Regions from separate parts of the Homo sapiens genome. Here region 1 is linked to region 2. The links come from fine-mapping of genetic effects on gene expression. A gene starts in region 2. The other region holds a variant in brackets. All regions are shown on one strand. Distances are from middle to middle. Region 1 has its middle 94 kb from the start of VPREB1. Region 2 holds the start of VPREB1 (V-set pre-B cell surrogate light chain 1).

What was found.
Region 1: its variant is fine-mapped to the expression of VPREB1 in whole blood (TOPMed, PIP 0.96).

The regions. Positions count from the first base shown.
Region 1 is chr22:22,334,281-22,342,978 of GRCh38, reverse strand. It overlaps IGL and the pseudogene ASH2LP3. Among named protein-coding and RNA genes, the nearest start is that of VPREB1, 94 kb to the right of the region's middle. The variant T/G (reference allele first, on the strand shown) is at 5,113.
Region 2 is chr22:22,241,427-22,250,124 of GRCh38, reverse strand. It overlaps VPREB1 (V-set pre-B cell surrogate light chain 1), which reads right to left and starts at 5,339. Exons shown (of 2, transcript NM_007128.4): 1 at 5,266-5,339; 2 at 4,610-5,179. The coding sequence starts at 5,311. The coding sequence ends at 4,788. It also overlaps IGL.

The DNA of each region.
Region 1 (8,698 bases), 93 kb before region 2:
CTGGGCCCCTGCTTCACCTGGAGCCCATGTGGGTGTCCTGGAAATTTCTCAGGCTCCATTTCTAATGTCTCAGGAATCTCCACAGTGCTTCTTTCCCTCTGGGGTCCCACAGTGGGATGCAGTGACTAGATCAGTTAATCCTGGAGCCCGCCCAAGGCACCTGTTCCAACTTTCATTATAGGATGGGCGAGCCCTTCAACTGTTACTCCACACAAACTGAAGATGTGTCCACACTTGTAGATGACCACCTTCTCACTCTGTCCTCATCTCATTTTATGTTGTCCATTTTCTAATCTCCTCTTATAAGGATGCCGGTCCTTATGATCTCATTTCATCTTAATTACCCTCTGTAATGCTCTGTCTCCAAATACAGTAATATTGGGGGTTAAGGCTTCAATGTGAATTATGGAAAATTTAGTACATAATGACCAGTAATTACAGTACTTTTTTTAATTGATGAGAATGAGTTAGAATAGGATAAATATATAAGTGTGAAAAGGAAAATTTTATGAATATAACATCATATATATTTTGACATTTGAACAAGTGTATTTTTAATTGTCATAGAATACACACAACATAAAATTTGCCATTTAAATCACTTTTAACTGTAAAATTCAGTGGTGTTAAGTATATTCACAATGTGATAGAATTGCCTGGCATGGTGGCTTGCACCTGTAGTCCCAGCTACTCAGGAGTCTGAGGCAGGAGGCTTGCCTAGACCCAAGAGTTCAAGGATGCAGTGAGCTATCATTGTACCACTGCACTCCAGCCTGGGCAACAGAGCAAGTTACCACCTCTGAAAAAAAAGTGATACAGTCATCACCATTATGAATTTCCATAACTTTCTCATCATCCCAAGTGAAAAGTTTGTACCCTTTAAACGTTTATTTCCCCTCCCCACTCCCCTAACCCCTGGTAACCAGTGGAGAAGAGGGGGATTGGGAAACTGGGTGAGGGAGAACTCAGGGCTCTGAGACACAGTCCAGGAAGAAGCAGAGCAGAGACAGCACCCATGCTGGCTCTTGGGAGATGCTGCTTGGGCAGGTGAAAGCTTTCTGTGGCTGTGTTTCTATCCCTGCATGACCACGTTGATGCAGGCTGCCCGCTGTGGGATGTAGGATCAAGTCTCGTGGGTCCCATGGCAGTGTGTCCTGTGACTCCACCTTTCTCCCCAACAATGTGTCAGAGACAAACACTGACAGCCTTTTGTTGGGGCACTTGACACATAATTCACTACCTCTTCCTATGTGCATTCCCTCCAACAGTCATGTTACGTATCCTCCAGAGACTTCAGAAATGTCCTGCTTTCAGTCCAATTCTTTCATGATGGTCAAGGGGAATTGCATCAGTAGAACATGGATTCTGCTTTCCAATATGCTAAAGAGAGTTTGAATCTATGGTAAAAACAAATGAGATTGTACTATAATTTTGATATCTAATACTATTCATATTGATTGTGTGCCATTCTTTTCTGGGATCAGAAATAACTTTGGATCATGCGATCTCTATTTGGTGCCCTTTGAACATTTTCTTCATGTGTGGTAGCACTGTCTCATGATGCTGCAGGGCTTGGACTTTTGAATGAAGATGTTTGATCATTTGATACACACATGCACACACACACACACATACACACACACGAGAGAGAGACAGAAAGAGAGAGAGAGATCTGTGGACAGTTGCGCTAGCATAGGCTGGCCTAGGATACAAGTAAGGAGAGAAGGCAGGTAGAATAAGATGACCCTCAGTGTCCTTATGTTTGCCCCTGAAGGACTTTCTTGTCCAGTGATTGAATCCATTTCTAGCACCAAGACACCAGCCAGAGTGTGCTCTACCAGAGCATCCCAGCCCATGTCACTCATAGGGCAGTAAGTGAGATCCTTTGGAGGATACTTGAAGCACAGTCCAATGTTCATGGAAATTATGCAGTTGTTTTCTGGTAAGATTGCTGGAAAGTAAAGCCCCTTGAAAATATCTTTGTAAGCCATGCCTTGACTAACACCATTTTTATAAAATCTTATCTCACTGTGGGAAGTCTCTTTTAGGCTCTTCTCTGCTTCAGTCACAAAGTCTTTTTCCTCAAAACACAAATAATTCTTAAACTTTATCAAGGCCTTATCTTTGTAAGTATCAGGCAATGACTTGACTGTCTTTGTTTCTTCAGGAAGATTCATATAAAATCCCAGGATGTCTCCTTGTCTATAGCTAGAAGAGTAGTGTTTGCCAGTGGACTGGTGGAACTTCATTCCCTTTAATTCTCCCAAGAATAGTTAAACTTATCATAAACTAAGGAAGCTTGACAGTTATCTAAAGACTGGGACCAACCCAGTCTGGCAGCAGTGTCTGGTGGCATCTCATCCATGGTGATATCAAGGTAACCCATGAGAATCCCGTACCATAGAGTAGACCTTCTGTTCAACCACAGTCAGCCAGCAGGTCATTGGAGACTTTTAACTGGGGAGCTCAATTATGTCAGGCTAACAAAACCTGTTCATACAAGCAGCCTCTGTAGAGGTCTCCAGGAATAAGGAATTTTGCCCAGCAGTCAAGTTCAAGCTTCTGAGGACCAAGGGCGTGGGGATCAGGCTCAGCTAGAATATACTGGTAGTTATCTTTGTTCAGTGGGTGCTCTAAGGTGTATGAGAGGGAAGGCACTGAGCAGAAAACCCTGGACCTTCTTGGTGGTCCCTGTGATCTCCCCATTCAGCTGTTTGCACTGAGCTTCTTTTCCTTTTTTCTGCTGCTTCCTGTTGCTGTTCCCTCATTCAGATTCTCACTGGTAGACAAGGTATTGCTTTGTTTTTGTTGCATAAACAGGACCAATGTTACCAAGGTCCTGGTCTAAAAGTTCCAATCTAGGGTCATCTCCTTTTGGTTCTTTACTCACTAGATCCAGTGGTTCTTTTACCAAGAATATATCACTTTCTTTACTCATTGTTTTCACAATTGTATTTGGTCAAGTCATTTTCCCAGGTGTCTGAATGATTGTTGTGCACTTCCAGTATTTACAATAAATGGTATAATAACCTTATCTCTGGAAAAGGTTGTCTTTGGATATTCATCCTCTTTTTGTGACTGCCATGTCAAGTTGGCCAAAGCACTAAAGCACATTTCCTTCACGTTTGCTTGTATCTGGAGGAAATAGGTATTCTCACTATGACTGCATATATTGCAATGAAAATATAGTTAGTCATGAAAGGTAGGCAGGATGAAGTATCTATGCCAGATATTTCAACTGTGAACCACTTTGGAAAGCAACAGATGCCCCTTTCCAGCTGAAGCAGCTGCTACCACTGCCACCAGCTTCATCTCCCCCTCTTCTGCAGCCCTTGCATTTGTGGCCACTCCTGGACTGGGTCCGGCACCTGTGTGCTATCATTATGCCCCCACCCCGCCCCAGATTTCTTCACATTATTCTGAGTCCCCTGTAATGAGGCACCTCCTGCTCTCTTGGATTGTTAGGATGCTGCAGGGCTGGCAAAAAATGAAAGACGTCCTGGATACTTGTGCACACTCTCCTACTACTGTATCTTTCTACTGTTCTTGGAAGTAGAGCAATGGTGCCAAATATAAATCTTCCTCTTTTTGACTGTGGTAAAATATTCAAACATAAAATTTGTTACCTTCACCATTTCATGTGTACACTTCAGTGTCACTAAGTAAATCAACTTGTACAATCACACTGCTACCATTCATCTTCAGAAATTTTTCATCTTCCCAAACTAAAACTTCGCAACCATTAAACAAGAACTGCCCGGCTCGGTGTGGTGGCTCACTTCCTTGATTTCAGCACTTTGAGAGGCCAAGGTCGGTGGATCACTGGAGCCCAGGAGTTCAAGATTAGCCTGAGCAAAATGGTAAAACCCCATCTCTACTAAAAAATACCAAAAGTTAGCTGAACATGGTGGTGCATGCCTGTAATCCCAGCTACTTGGGAGGCTGAGGCATGAGAATCGCTTGAACCCAGGAGGCAGAGGTTGCAGTGAGCCAAGATTGTGCCACTGCACTCCAGACTGGGTGACAGAGGGAGACTCAGTCTCAAAAACAAAACAAAGCAAAACTAAACTAAACAAAAAACAAATAACTGTCCATTCTCCCCCTACTCTCCACCCCAAGGACCTGGGAAACTTCATTATACTTCTTGTCACGGTAGCTTTTACTACTCTAGGTACCTCATATAAGGGTAATGAAACAATTTTTGTTCTTTTGAAGCCAGCTTATTTCTGCTGGCATGATGTCTTTCAGGTTTATCTGTGCCATAGCATGGGCCAGAACACTCTCTTTAAGGCTGAATACTATTCCCTTGTGTGTGTATACTATATCCCATTTATCCATTAGATGGACACTTGGGCTGCCTCTACCTTTTAGCTATTGTGAACAATGCTGCTATGAACAAGGGTGTACAAATTTCTCTTTGAGACCCTGCTCTGAATTCTTTTAGGCACATACCCAGAAGTGAAAATTCTGTTAAAATGGTAATTCTATGTTTAATTTTTTGAGGAACTGCCATAAGGCTTCCACAGTGGATGCATCATTTTATAGTTTCTCCACAATTTCTACTCATCTTTGCCAGAACTTGTTATTTTCTATTATTTTGGTAACGCCATCCTACTGGGTGTGAAGTTGTGTATTATTGTGGTTTGATTTGGATTTCTCTAATGATTAGTGATGCTAAACATCTTTTCATGTGCTTATTGGCCATTTATTGATCTTCTTCGGAGAAATATCTATTCAAGTCTTGGGCCCATGTTTTATTCAGATTGTTTCTATTTTTTTATTCCTGTTGAGTTGTAGGAGTTCTTTCTATATCCTGGACACCTTACCAGATACAATGTTTGCAAAATATTTCCTGACTCCATGATTTGCATTTTCCCTCTGTTGATAGAGTCCTTTGTTGCACATAAATTTTACAATTTGATGAAATCCAATTTATCTATATTCTTTTTCTTTTTTTTTTCTTGTGCTTTTGGCGTCAAATACAAGAAATCATTTCCAAACCCAATGTTGTTAAACTTCTTCCTAGTGTTTTCTATTAAGATTTTTACAGTTATGGCTTTTCCATTTGGGTCTTTTATCCATTTCCACATTGCATGTGGATATCCAGTTTTC[T/G]CAAAAACATTTTTTATGGAGTCTGTCCTTTCCCCACTCAATGGTCTTGCTACCCTTATTTAAAATCATTTGATCATATAACTAAGAGATTCTTTCTGGGTGCTCAATTCTATTCTATTTGTCTGTCTATCTATTTGTCTGTCTATCTGTACCACTCTGCTTTGATTGGTGTAGCTCTGTAGTATGTTTTGAAATCAGGAAGTGTGAAATCTCCAACACTGTTCTTCTTTTAGAAGATCATTTTGGCTATTTGGAGTCCTGTGATAGTCTATGTAAATTTTAGAATTAATTTTTTCTACTTTTGCAAAAAAAATTATTGGAATTTTAATAGAGATTGAAATGAATCTGTAGATTTCTTTTGGTTTGTATTGATTTCTTAACAATATCAAGTTTTTCAATTCATGAACAAATGTTTTCTTTCCATTTATTTGTGTATTCTTTAATTTCTTTTAGCAATGTTTCTTTCCATTTATTTGTGTATTCTTTAATTTCTTTTAGCAATGTTTTATAGTTTTCAGTATAGAAGAGTCCCCTTCTTGATTCTTAAGTATTTTATTCTTTCTGATGCTATTGTAAATTGAATTGTTTTCTTAATTTCATTTTGGGTTGTGTCCTGTCTTCTTGTTTCCTGTTTGGTTGATTAAGTATAGAAATATAAGAACCCTGTTTGTTTGCTTGTTCGTTTGTTTGTTTGTTTTTGAGACAGGGTCTCACTTCATTTCCCACGCTGGTATTGAACTCTCTTGATCCTAACCAATCCTTTCACCTCAGCTTCCCCAAGAGCTGGGATTACAGGTATGAGCCATCATGGCTGTCCATTAGATGGTTTTATGTGTTGATTTTGTATTCTGAAATATTACCAAATGTATTTAATAGTTCTAACAGTTTTTGTTTTGGTGGGACTTATTTTATTTATTTATTTATTTATTTATTTATTTGTTTATTTTACTTTAAGTTCTGGGATACATGTGTGCAGAACCCGCAGGTTTGTTACAGAGGTATATATGTGACATGGTGGTTTACTACACCTATCAACCTGTCATCTAGGTTTTAATCCCGGTATGCATGAGGTATTCATCCTAATGCTCTCCCTCCCCTTGACCCCCAGCCCCCCCGGACAGGCCCTGGTATACGATGTTTCCCTCCCTGTGTCCACGTGTTCTCATTCTTCAACTCCCACTTATGAGTATGAACATGCAGTGTTTGATTTTCTGTTTCAGTGTTACTTTGCTGAGAATGATGGCTTCCAGCTTCATCTATGTCCCTGCAAAGAACATGAACTCATTCTTTTTTATGGCTGCATAGTATTCCACAGTGTATATATGCCACATTTTCTATATTCAGTCTGTCATTGATGGCCATTTGGATTGGTTCCAAGTCGTTGCTACTGCATAGAGTGCTGCAATAAACATATGTGTCCATGTGTCTTTATGGTAGAATGATTTATAATCCTTTGGGTATATACCCAGGAATGGGATTACTGGTCTCAAATGGTATTTCTGGTTCTAGATCCTTGAGGAATTGCCACACTGTCTTCCACAATGGTTGAACTAATTTACATTCCCACTGACAGTGTAAAAGCATTCCAATTTCTCCGCAGCCTCACCAACATCTGTTGTTTCCCGACTGTTTAATAATTGCCATTCTAACTGGTGTGAGATGGTACCTCACTGTGGTTTTGATTTGCATTTCTCTAATGACCAGTGATGATGCGCTGTTTTTCATATGTTTGTTGGCCACATACATGTCTTCTTTTGAGAAGTGTTTGTTCATATCCTTAGTCCATTTTTTGATGGGGTTGTTTGTTTATTTCTTGTAAATTTGTTTAAGTTCCTTGTAGATTCTAAATATTAGACCTTTGTCAAATGGGTAGCTTGCAAAAATTTTCTCCCATTCTGTAGGTTGCCTGTTTACTCTGATGATTGTTTCTTTTACTCTGCCGAAGTTCTTTAGTTTGATTAGATCCCATTTTCAATTTAGCTTTTGTTGCCATCGCTTTTGGTATTTTCATCATAAAGTATTTGCCCACACCTGTGTCCTGAATGGAATTGCCTAGGTTTTCTTCCAGGGTTTTTATGGTTTTGGGTTTTACATTTAAGTCTTTAATCCGTTTTGAGTTAATTTTTGTATACGGTGTAAGGAAGCGGTCCAGTTTCTGTTTTCTGTCTATGGCTACCAGTTTTCCCAGCACCACTTATCAAATAGGGAATCCTTTCCCCATTGCTTGTTTTTGTCAAGTTTGTCAAAGATCAGATGGTTGTAGATGTGTGGTGTTATTTCTCAGGTCTCTGCTCTGTACCATTGATCTATTTATCTGCTTTGGTACCAGTACCATGCTGTTTTGGTTACTGTTGCCTGGTAGTGTAATTTGAAGTCAGGTGGTGTGATGCCTCCAGCTTTGTTCTTTTTGTTTAGAATTGTCTTGGTTATCCAGGTTCTTTCTTGGTTCCATATGAAATTTAAAGTAGCTTTTTTCTATTCTGCAGAAAAAGTCAGTGGTGTCTTCATGGGAATAGCATTGAATCTATAGATTACTTTGGGCAATATGGCCATTTTCACGATATTGATTCTTCCTATCCATGAGAATGGAATGTTTTTTCATTCCTTTGTGTCCTTTCTTATTTCCTTCAGCAGTAGTGTATAGTTCTCCTTGAAGAGGTCCTTCAAGTCCCTGTAAGTTGTACTCCTAGGCATTTTATTTTCTTTGTAGCAATTGTGAATGAGGGTTCACTCATGATTTGGCTCTCTGCTTGTCTATTTCTGGTGTGTAGGAATGCTTGCGATTTTTGCACATTGATTTTGTATCCTGGGACTTTGCTGGAGTTGCTTATCAGCTTAAGGAGTTTTTGGGCTGAGATGATTGGGTTTTCTAACTATACAGTCATATCGTCTGCAAACAGAGACAATTTGACTTCCTCTCTTCCTATTCAAATACGCTTTATTTCTCTTGCCTGATTGCCCTGGCTAGAACTTCCAATGCTATGTTGAACAGAAGTGTTCAGAGAGGGCATCCTTGTCTTGTGGTGGTTTTCAAAGTGAATGCTTCCAGCTTTTGCCCATTCAGTATGATGTTGGCTATGGGTTTTTCATAAATTCCTCTTATTATTTTGAGATATGTTCCATCAACACTTAGTTTATTGAGAGGTTTTAGCATGAAGGGATGTTGAATTTTATCAAAGGGCTTTTCTGCATCTATTGAGATAATCATGTGGTTTTTGTCTTTAGTTCTGTTTATGCGATGGATTACATTTATTGATTTGTGTATGTTGAACCAGACTTGCATCCCAGCGATGAAGCCGACTTGATTGTGGTGGGTAAGTTTTTTGATGTGCTGCTGGATTCAGTTTGCCAGTATTTTATTGAGGATTTTCGCATCAATGTTCATCAAAGATATTGGCCCGGAATTTTCTGTTTTTGTTGTGTCTCTGCCGGATTTTGATATCAGGATGATGCTAGCTTCACAAAATGAGTTAGAGAGGAGTCTCTCTTTTTCTATTCTTTGGAATGGTTTCAGAAGGAATGGTATCAGCTCCTCTTTGTACCTCTGGTATAATTCAGCTGTGAATCTGTCTGGTCCTGGGCTTTT
Region 2 (8,698 bases):
TTATGGCTGAGAAGGACTTGGGGGGTTGAGGGCTTCCTATCAGCCCAGGAGACATTATCCGGGTCTGGGAAGCCTGCTCTGCACTTGTGGGTCTCGAATTGTCTGTTGCATTTACCTGCCTCATTATTTTTTCTTCCTGTCTCTCTTCTTACATATTTCTCTCGAATTTGGAGCTTGTTTTTCTTAACTACAATCAACCTGAATCATTACTGCATATATAAATATAAATTTTATATTGAATAGACATTATATACTCAATCTATTACACATTCCAACACAGGCCATATCTAAGATGTATATTTATATTTAATGTTTAAAATATGTTTACATTTCATATGGAAAAATATATTTATATTTAACATATATAAACCCTGGTCTTGGGTTCAACAAAGAGCCAGAAGGCAGCAGAGCAGGCCAGCAGGGCTGGAGGCTGGTCTCAGAGATATGGAGGAGGAAGGGAGTGAGAGACACTCAAAAGGAAGAACCCACAGGGTGACTGTGGCCCTGGTCAGAAGGCAAGGGAGGGATAGGGATGAGGCCGAAAGTTGTAGTTTGGTTGATCAAGTGGATTTTCTCATCACTGTCATGCAGTAAGGGTGTGGGGGAGAGAGAGAATCGGAAAGGAGAGGAAATGTGGCCAGTCACTAATATGATCGAGAAGGTCTGGGCTGGTTCTCCCTTCTTAGGGAATCACAATTCTCTAAGGTGGTGACCCCAGCCACCTAATGGGATCCCAGAATGTCAGGGTCCTTGGAACCCGAAAATTCATTCAGTTACACATTCATTCATTTGTTCATTCAACTGTCTAATTGCCAAGTGTTTATCAGGCACATCAATGGGTTGAGTAGATCCTGCCCACTGAGAATCTGCAGATTAGTAGGGGAGGGAGCTTTGCTAAATAAATTTATAACTGTGCAGTAGAAGCTAAATATAGTTAGGAAAACATGCTGTTTGCACAGTGGAGGAAGTTAATAACTGCATGAAGAGCTCGGGGAAGTCTTGCCCAAGGAGTGAGATTTGAGACAGTTGTGGAGCCCCGAGTCAGTGCAGCCAGATGGAGGCCACAACAAAGGGACAGGAAGTCCTGGCAGTAAACAGCTTGGGCAAAGGTTTAGAAGCAACCAAGAGACTCGGGTGTTTGATCAGTTGCAGTTGGCTTAACATGGCAGAAACAGGGAGAGAGGGTGCACAAGAAATGGGACTTGGGACCAAGCCTGAGCCAGCCTTCAAAGGCTGTGTCATGGGAAGGAGGCTGAATTGCATCCCCTCAACCAAAGTGGTCTCTTCACAAGGCATATGTAGCTCTTGACCACTTGGCTGACCAGATTATCCACTTGAGCAAATTATCCAAGACATGAATATAAAATACATACCAGATTTTGAAGTGTGAATACAAAAGAAAAACAAGTTTAAACTATCTAGTAACTAATTTTTATATTGATTATAGGTTGAATTGGTAATATTGGGGATTTATTATGTTAAATAGAATATATCATTAAAAAATCATTTCACCTATTTGTTTTTACTGTTTAAAAATAATGTAGCCACTAGAAAATTGGAAATTACAGATGTGGCTTGCATATGTTCTTTAGAGTGTGGGAGACAATAAAGGGTTAGAGAGGAGGAATGCATGCAAGGCTGGATCTAGGAGCAACAAAGATGAGGAGTGGTGGGTATAGACTGCATGCAGCAGGAGGATGGATGGGAAGGAGACCAGATAATGGTCAAGGTGAGAAATGACTCAGACTAAAGGAAAGGATTTGACAAGAGGGAAGGCCAGGCAGGTGACTGATGGGGAAATCATGATACTATTATTTTGTTGAGCACTCATGATGGATAAAACCTTTTTGTTTGTTTGTTTGTTTGTTTTTGAGAGACAGTCTTGCTCTGTCACCCAGGCTGGAGTGATGTGGTGCGATTTCGGTTCACTACAACCTCCGCCTCCCAGGTTCAAGCAATTCTTCTGCCTTAGCCTCCCAAGTAGCTGGGATCAGAGGCACCCGCCACCATGCCCAGCTAATTTTTGTATTTTTGGTAGAGACGGGGTTTCACCATGTTGCCCAGGATGGCCTCAAACTCCTGACCTTAGGTGATCTGCCCGCCTCGGCCTCCCAAAGTGCTGGGATTACAGGCATGAGCCACCACGCCTGGCCAGATAAAAACTTTTTATATAAGTTAATCAGTTCTATGATTATCCCCTTTACATGCAACATTGGAAATGTTGGCTTAGATTTTAAGTGACTCCTCCAGAGCTAAGACTCACACTCAGTCTGGCCTCAAGCCTGAGTTCCAGGTCTCATTTTCCATTGAGCTGGTGGGGTGGGGGCATGAGGATGATACAGGAGTCCAACTCAGCTCCCGGCTTTCTAGATCTCTTCTCATAGCATGGAATCCCAGAATCATGAAGGATGGAGGCAAGAGAGGGACGGGTTACAAGCAGAAGACAGAGTTCCTCTGGAACCATCTAGCTGGTCTTTAAAACTGTGGGCCATGGCCAGGTGCAGTGACTCACACGTGTAGTTCAGCCACTCAGCAGGCTGAGACAGGAGGATCGCTGGAGCCCAGGAGTTCAAGGCTGTAGAGCATCATGAATTGAACCTGTGAATAGCCACAGCAGTCCAGCCTGGGCAGCATAGCAAGATCCTATCTCTAAAATAAAATAATAAACAAGTAAATAATAATGTTTTAAAATGTGGGCCTGGCCCAGGGGTAAAAGCCTGATGCAGGAAGAACCCAGTGCATAGAGTATGGCATAAGCTGAGATCACTGTCTCTTTTTTTTTTTTTTTTTTTTTTTGTGAGATGGAGTCTCGCTCTGTCACCCAGGCTGGAGTGCAGTGGCATGATCTCGGCTCACTGCAACCTCTGCCTCCTGGGTTCAAGCAATTCTCCTGCCTCAGCCTCCCAAGTAGCTGGGATTACGGGCATGTGCCAACACACCCAGCTAATTTTTGTATTTTTAGTAGAGATGAGATTTCACCATGTTGGGTAGGCTGGTCTCTAACTCCTGACCTCAGGTGATCCACCCGCCTCGGCCTCCCAAAGTGCTGGAGACCACTGTTTAACAAGAGAGGGACTCATGACCACACATGGAACGCTGATACTGACATGTGTCCACCTCTCTGGGGAGATGCCTCAGGATCTTTTTAGCTGGGGTGAATGCACGTTCCCAGGCAAGTTGGGGTTACAAGGGAGATGGTTTGCCCGGCACCTCTCTGAGTGAGGCATGTCTACAGGTTGTGTGAACACCCAATGTAGAGAGTCCCTCTCCGCAAGGCACACTCAGACCCACCACCCACGGGCTCAGGGGGCCTTGCTGTGGGCCGGGGCTGCAGGGAGCTCCCCATTGCTACTTCACCCAGACAGTCCAACACAGTCTCAGTGAGACCACGTCCTTCATGCCTCTAGGTATCTCCATGGGTCCAGAGGCTTCTGCCTGGGGTCACAGGCAAGATAAGTTGAGGGGGGACTCTGATTATCCCACCAAGCATGGCTTGCTTAAAACCTGGAGACAGGAGCTGGAGTGCTCCCGAGCAGGGCTCAGCAAACTACAGCCTGGGCGCCATACCCAGCCCAGTGTAGCCCCATCTGTTTCTGTAAATACAGCTTTATAAGAACACAGCCATGCCTCTTTGTTGACATGTTTGTCTGTGGCTGCTTTCTTGCTACTAGGACAGAATTGAACAGTTGTGACAGAGATCGCATAGCCCACAAAGCCAAAAATATTTACCACCTGGCTCTTTATAGAAAATGGGCTGGGTGCAGTGGCTCACGCCTCTAATCCCAGCACTTTAGGAGGCCCAAGCAGGGGGATCACTCGAGCTCAGGAGTTTGAGATCAGCTTGAGCAACATAGTGAGACATTCATCTCTCCAAAAATAAAACTAAATAAATAGCCAAGCATGGTGATGCACGCCTGTAGTCTCAGCTGCTCAGGAGGCTGAGACAGGACAATCACTTGAGCCTGGGAGTTTGAAGCTGCGGTGAGCTATGATTGCACCACTGCACTCCAGCCTGGACCACAGAGCAAGACTTTATCCCTAAAAAAAGGAAAAAAAGAACATGTTTGCCGACACCTGCCACTCTCTTGTACAAATAAGTAAATGCATTTACTTGCTCATCTAGACCAGTGGTTCACAATCAGTGTGAGTTTACCACCTGGGGACATTTGGCAATGTCTGGAGACATTTTTGTTTGTCACAACTGGGAAGGGGCATCTGGTGGGTAGAGGCCACAGATAACCACTCACCATTCAACAATCCGCAGGACAGCCCCACAACCAAGAACTGTCCAGCCCAAAACGTCGATAGGACCAAGGTGGAGAACCCACTCTAGGCCTATTACCTGGCTCCTGTTCTCCCTGGAGGCCCAGACCAGGTGCTTTCTAAGCTTGTTTGCCCTGTAACCGCTGGGCAGAATCAGATGACACCAGAGGGTCCTGTCCTGGGCATGGATGCCCCTCCAGGGTGCTTCGGTCAACCCCTTGCCTCCCATGGCCCACAAAAGTAAGGACTCAGGTGAGTGCTCACCACAGTGATCTGCCAGTCTCCCGGGGCCCCGGGCCTTTGCCCAAGGCTGGTACTACGAAGTCGCACAACAGTCAGACCAAACTCAGCAAAAAGTGACAAGCAGCTTTAATTCCCTAATGCAGTCTCCAATGGGGATTTACAGCAACACTGCAGGACCAGGAGATGCTGAGTGGCTCAGCCTCCTCGGCGCTTCGGGCGGCGACTCCACCCTCTTCCATGACAGTCTCTCCAAGGGGATGCGTGCCTCTGCTGTCTTCAGTTCAAGGGACACGTGTCCTGGCTGCAGTGGGTTCCATTTCTTCCTCCCACTCCCTCTCCCTCTCCTCCTTCTCCGAGCTGCGGGCCCCCATAGCACAGTAATACATAGCCTCGTCCTCAGGCTGCAGCTCAGAGATGCTCAAATACCCCCTGTTCCTGGCCACATCTTTGGATCCAGAGAAGCGAGGGGGGACCTGGGGGCCCTGGCTCTTGTCTGATTGTGAGAAATATCTCAGCAGGAACCTGGGAGGGTGGCCCGGCCTCTGCTGGTACCAGTAGACGCTGTACACACCGATGTCATGGTCGTTCCTCAGGGTGCAGGTGAGGCGGATTGTGGTTCCAAGGGCCGAGGACATGGCCGGCGGCTGATGCAGCACCGGCTGAGGACCACAACCTGGTGACACAGATGCATGTGGGCCGTGGGGGCAGGGCAGGATGAAGGAAGGGGCAGGAGTCTTTGGGATCTGGGGGTTCCCTCACCTGTGCAGTAGACAAACAGCATGAGCAGGACAGGAGCCCAGGACATGGTGCAGACATGCAGAGCTCTGACTCCTGTGGCCACGGTGCCTGGGGTCCCCAAGGGCTGGCCCAGCATCCTCCTCCCTGCTCTGAGAGGTGGGGCCGTGGCACACCCCGTTCCTGGCCACTACCATCCCAGACTTTCTTGGGTCTGCAACGTCGGTTACCGGAACAGCGTCGGGGCAGCATTTGTGGCTCTGATCTTGCCATATGGAAGCATTCAGGGAGGAAGCACCTGCTGGAGACTCTGGGGCCAGTGCCCTGGAGGCCTTTGGGTTAAGGTACCTCAGGGGTCGTGACCTCAACTTCCCCCTGAGGAAACCGCACCCCAGATAAATAAATTTTCTGTCTACATTTAAATGCTTGGTGAGCCAGGAAGGGAGGACACATCCTCGGGGGGTGAAAACACCTGCTTTGTACAGCAGAAGACACTGGGGGCCCAGAGCGGGTTGGGATGTTCTGCCCCTTCCATGTTGCAGCACTGCCTTCGGCCCATGCTCCTCTCCCTACTAGAACCAAGTAGAGTGACTCAGGCATGGGAAAGAAGCACCAGGGCCTGGTGCCTTCCCCACCCCTGTTCTGGCTCACCGAGCAGGTGCAGCTTGGCACTGTGATAGACTGAATTGCATCCCCCAAATCCATAGGTTGAAGCCCTAACCCCCAGTGTGCCTGTATTTGGAGATAGGGCCTTTAAGGAGTTAATGAAGGTTAGATGAGGTCATAGAGGTGGGGCCCCGGTCAGTACAACTGGTGTCCTTATAAAAAGGGGAAATTTGGGAGCCGGATGCAGTGTCTCACACCTATAATCCCAGCACTTTGGGAGGCCAAGGTGGGAGGATCACTTGAGCTCAGGAGTTCGAGTCTAGCCTGAGCAACATGGCAAAACCCCATCTCTACAAAAAAAATTTAAAAATTAGCTGGTCATGGCGGACAGGCACCTGCAGTCCCAACTACTTGGGAGGCTGAGGTGGGAAAATCACTTGAGCTTGGGAGGTTGAGTTGAGGCTGCAGCAAGCCAAGATCTCACCACTGCCCTCCAGCCTGGCCAACAGAGGGAGACCCTGCCTCAAAAAAAAAATGAGAATAAAAATAATACATTAAATGTATGTTTGCATACTACCTGCAAGATTTAAAAAAAAATTAAGGGGAAATTTGGACTTAAAGTCTCTGATCCCACATGCTCACCCTCCCTCAAAAAGCTGGAGTGTCTCCTCCCCTGGAACCTGTGCAGGCCTGTGATCAAGGCTGAAGTGTCCCTGGGTGCACGAGGTGGCACTGAGCAGCTGGGTGTGCACTGGGACTGTTTACTTGCAAACACTTTGATAGAGCAACCACCCCTGAGGCTCAGATGAGCCCCTGCTCGGTGTCAAGCTGCCCCACATCCATTCTCTGCCTGGTGAGGTGCAGGCTGCACCAGTTTCAGCCCGCAGGGTCGACTCTGGGAGCCCCACCCTTCTTCCCACTGCCTCTCTGGCCAACAGCTCCACTGCCCAGGTGAGGGCTGGGGAGGGCCTCTGCAGACACAGGATGTCTTGACCACTCTGTCCAGTAACAGCTGCAACCACATCTATGACCTGTTGCTCCTCCCTCCTCTGCACAGGCTGGTGGGCAGTGGGGAACTAACCAGTGACTGCTGACTCCTGGAGAGGAGAAAGGAAGCTTTTTTCACTCATTCATTCATTTATTCCCTCATCCAGTAGCTCATTCATGTGTTGTGCACGTATTTGTGAAAGAGAAATATACCTCCCAGACCCCTCCGAGAGCACCAGTCCTTGGGAATCAGGGCAGGAGAAGGTTCCACCTGTGGGCACCAGCACTACTGCAGTCCCTGAACTAGCCCTACCACTGACACTGTCAGAGCTTTTTGATCCTTTTAAGCTCAGAGAGGATAGGTGTTTCTACTTGCTCTTACAATTATACTTAGAGAGCAAATAAGCCCAGCCCTCAACCGTAGAGACACTCTGGTCCCAACTTTCTTTCACAGGCTTCACTGACCCAGGACCTTTGCATCACTCACAGAGCAAGATAGTATCCAGTGGTGACTGTGCGTGCTGGGGAATGACTGGGCCTTCCAGACCCTGCTGGAGATGGTCTCAGACCCCTGGAGCATCTAGAGTTAGATGCAGGTCATGCACTCTGAACTCTGCATTCTCCTGGCCCTGGGCCACTCTTCCCACCTCTGTTCCCTCAGCCTTGTCCTCAACCCACCAACACCTGGACTCAGGGATCATCTGCAGGGCACAGCAGTTTGATGGGATTGAAGAACACCATGTATTCAGTCCTTTCTGGCTGCACTCAACTCTTTTTAGATAATTCTAGACCAAGAGAAGGTTGGTGAGCTCTGTAACAGACCTCAAGGTCTACAAGGGTCTCAGGGGAGACAGGAGCTATTCAGTGCTCCTGCCTGGTTTGTAGATTTTTTTTTTTTTTTAGAGACAAGGTTTCACTCTGTTGTCCAGGCTGGAGTGTAGCGGTGCAGTCACAGCTCACTGCAGCCTCGAACTCCTGGGCTCAAACAATTCTCCTGTCCCAGCCTCCCAAGTAGCTGGGACTACAAGCACATGCTACCACACCCAGCTAATTTTTTTTACTTTTTGTGGAGACAGGGTCTTGCCATTTTGCTCAAGGCTGGTCTCAAATTCCTGCGTTCGAGAGATCCTCCTGCCTCAGCTTCCTAAAATGCTGGGATTACAGGTGTGAGCTACCCACCGCACGCCCGGCTGAATAGATATTTTAAACTGTTTCAGCGATCCACTGCTACGTGGCAAACCACCCGTAATGTAGTCATTTAAAACAAGACTTGATTAGTTCCCCAGTTCTGTGAGTTGCCTGGGTGGTTCTTCTGGTTCCACCTACAATCATGCATGTGGTTATGGTCATTGATGGCTGGACCACCTGCACTGGAGGTCTATCCAAGATTGCACTTCATTCTCCTACACATGGCTCTGATATTAGCAAGCTCTCACCCTCGGTGGTCTAGTGGTCCCTCTGGTCACCCATTCGTCCCATCTCCTTTCCTCCTCCCTCATGTCAGGGTCCCCCAGTCCCCGTCTCCCTCATTTCACATCCGAAGGCATGCTTACCTAGTGCCTTTCCACCCCTCTGCTCTCACATGGTGCTAAGCCAGGCTCGCACCAGTCTCCTTGTCACCACAGGACCTTTGCCCGTGATCCCAATGCCAGGATGAATTCCAGTCCCTCAGAACTAACCTCCTTCCTCCAGGTGCTCACTTCAGAGTCCCTTCCTGGGCAGCCTCCCCGACAGCCCCAGGTGAGTAGGCCTGCCCTGCTCTTCCTCTCTCATGGACTATGCTGCGTTTTGGTTTTGGTTTAGGTTTTTGTTTTGTTTTGTTTTGTTTTTTTGTTTGTTCGTTTTTTGAGACAGAGTCTTGCTC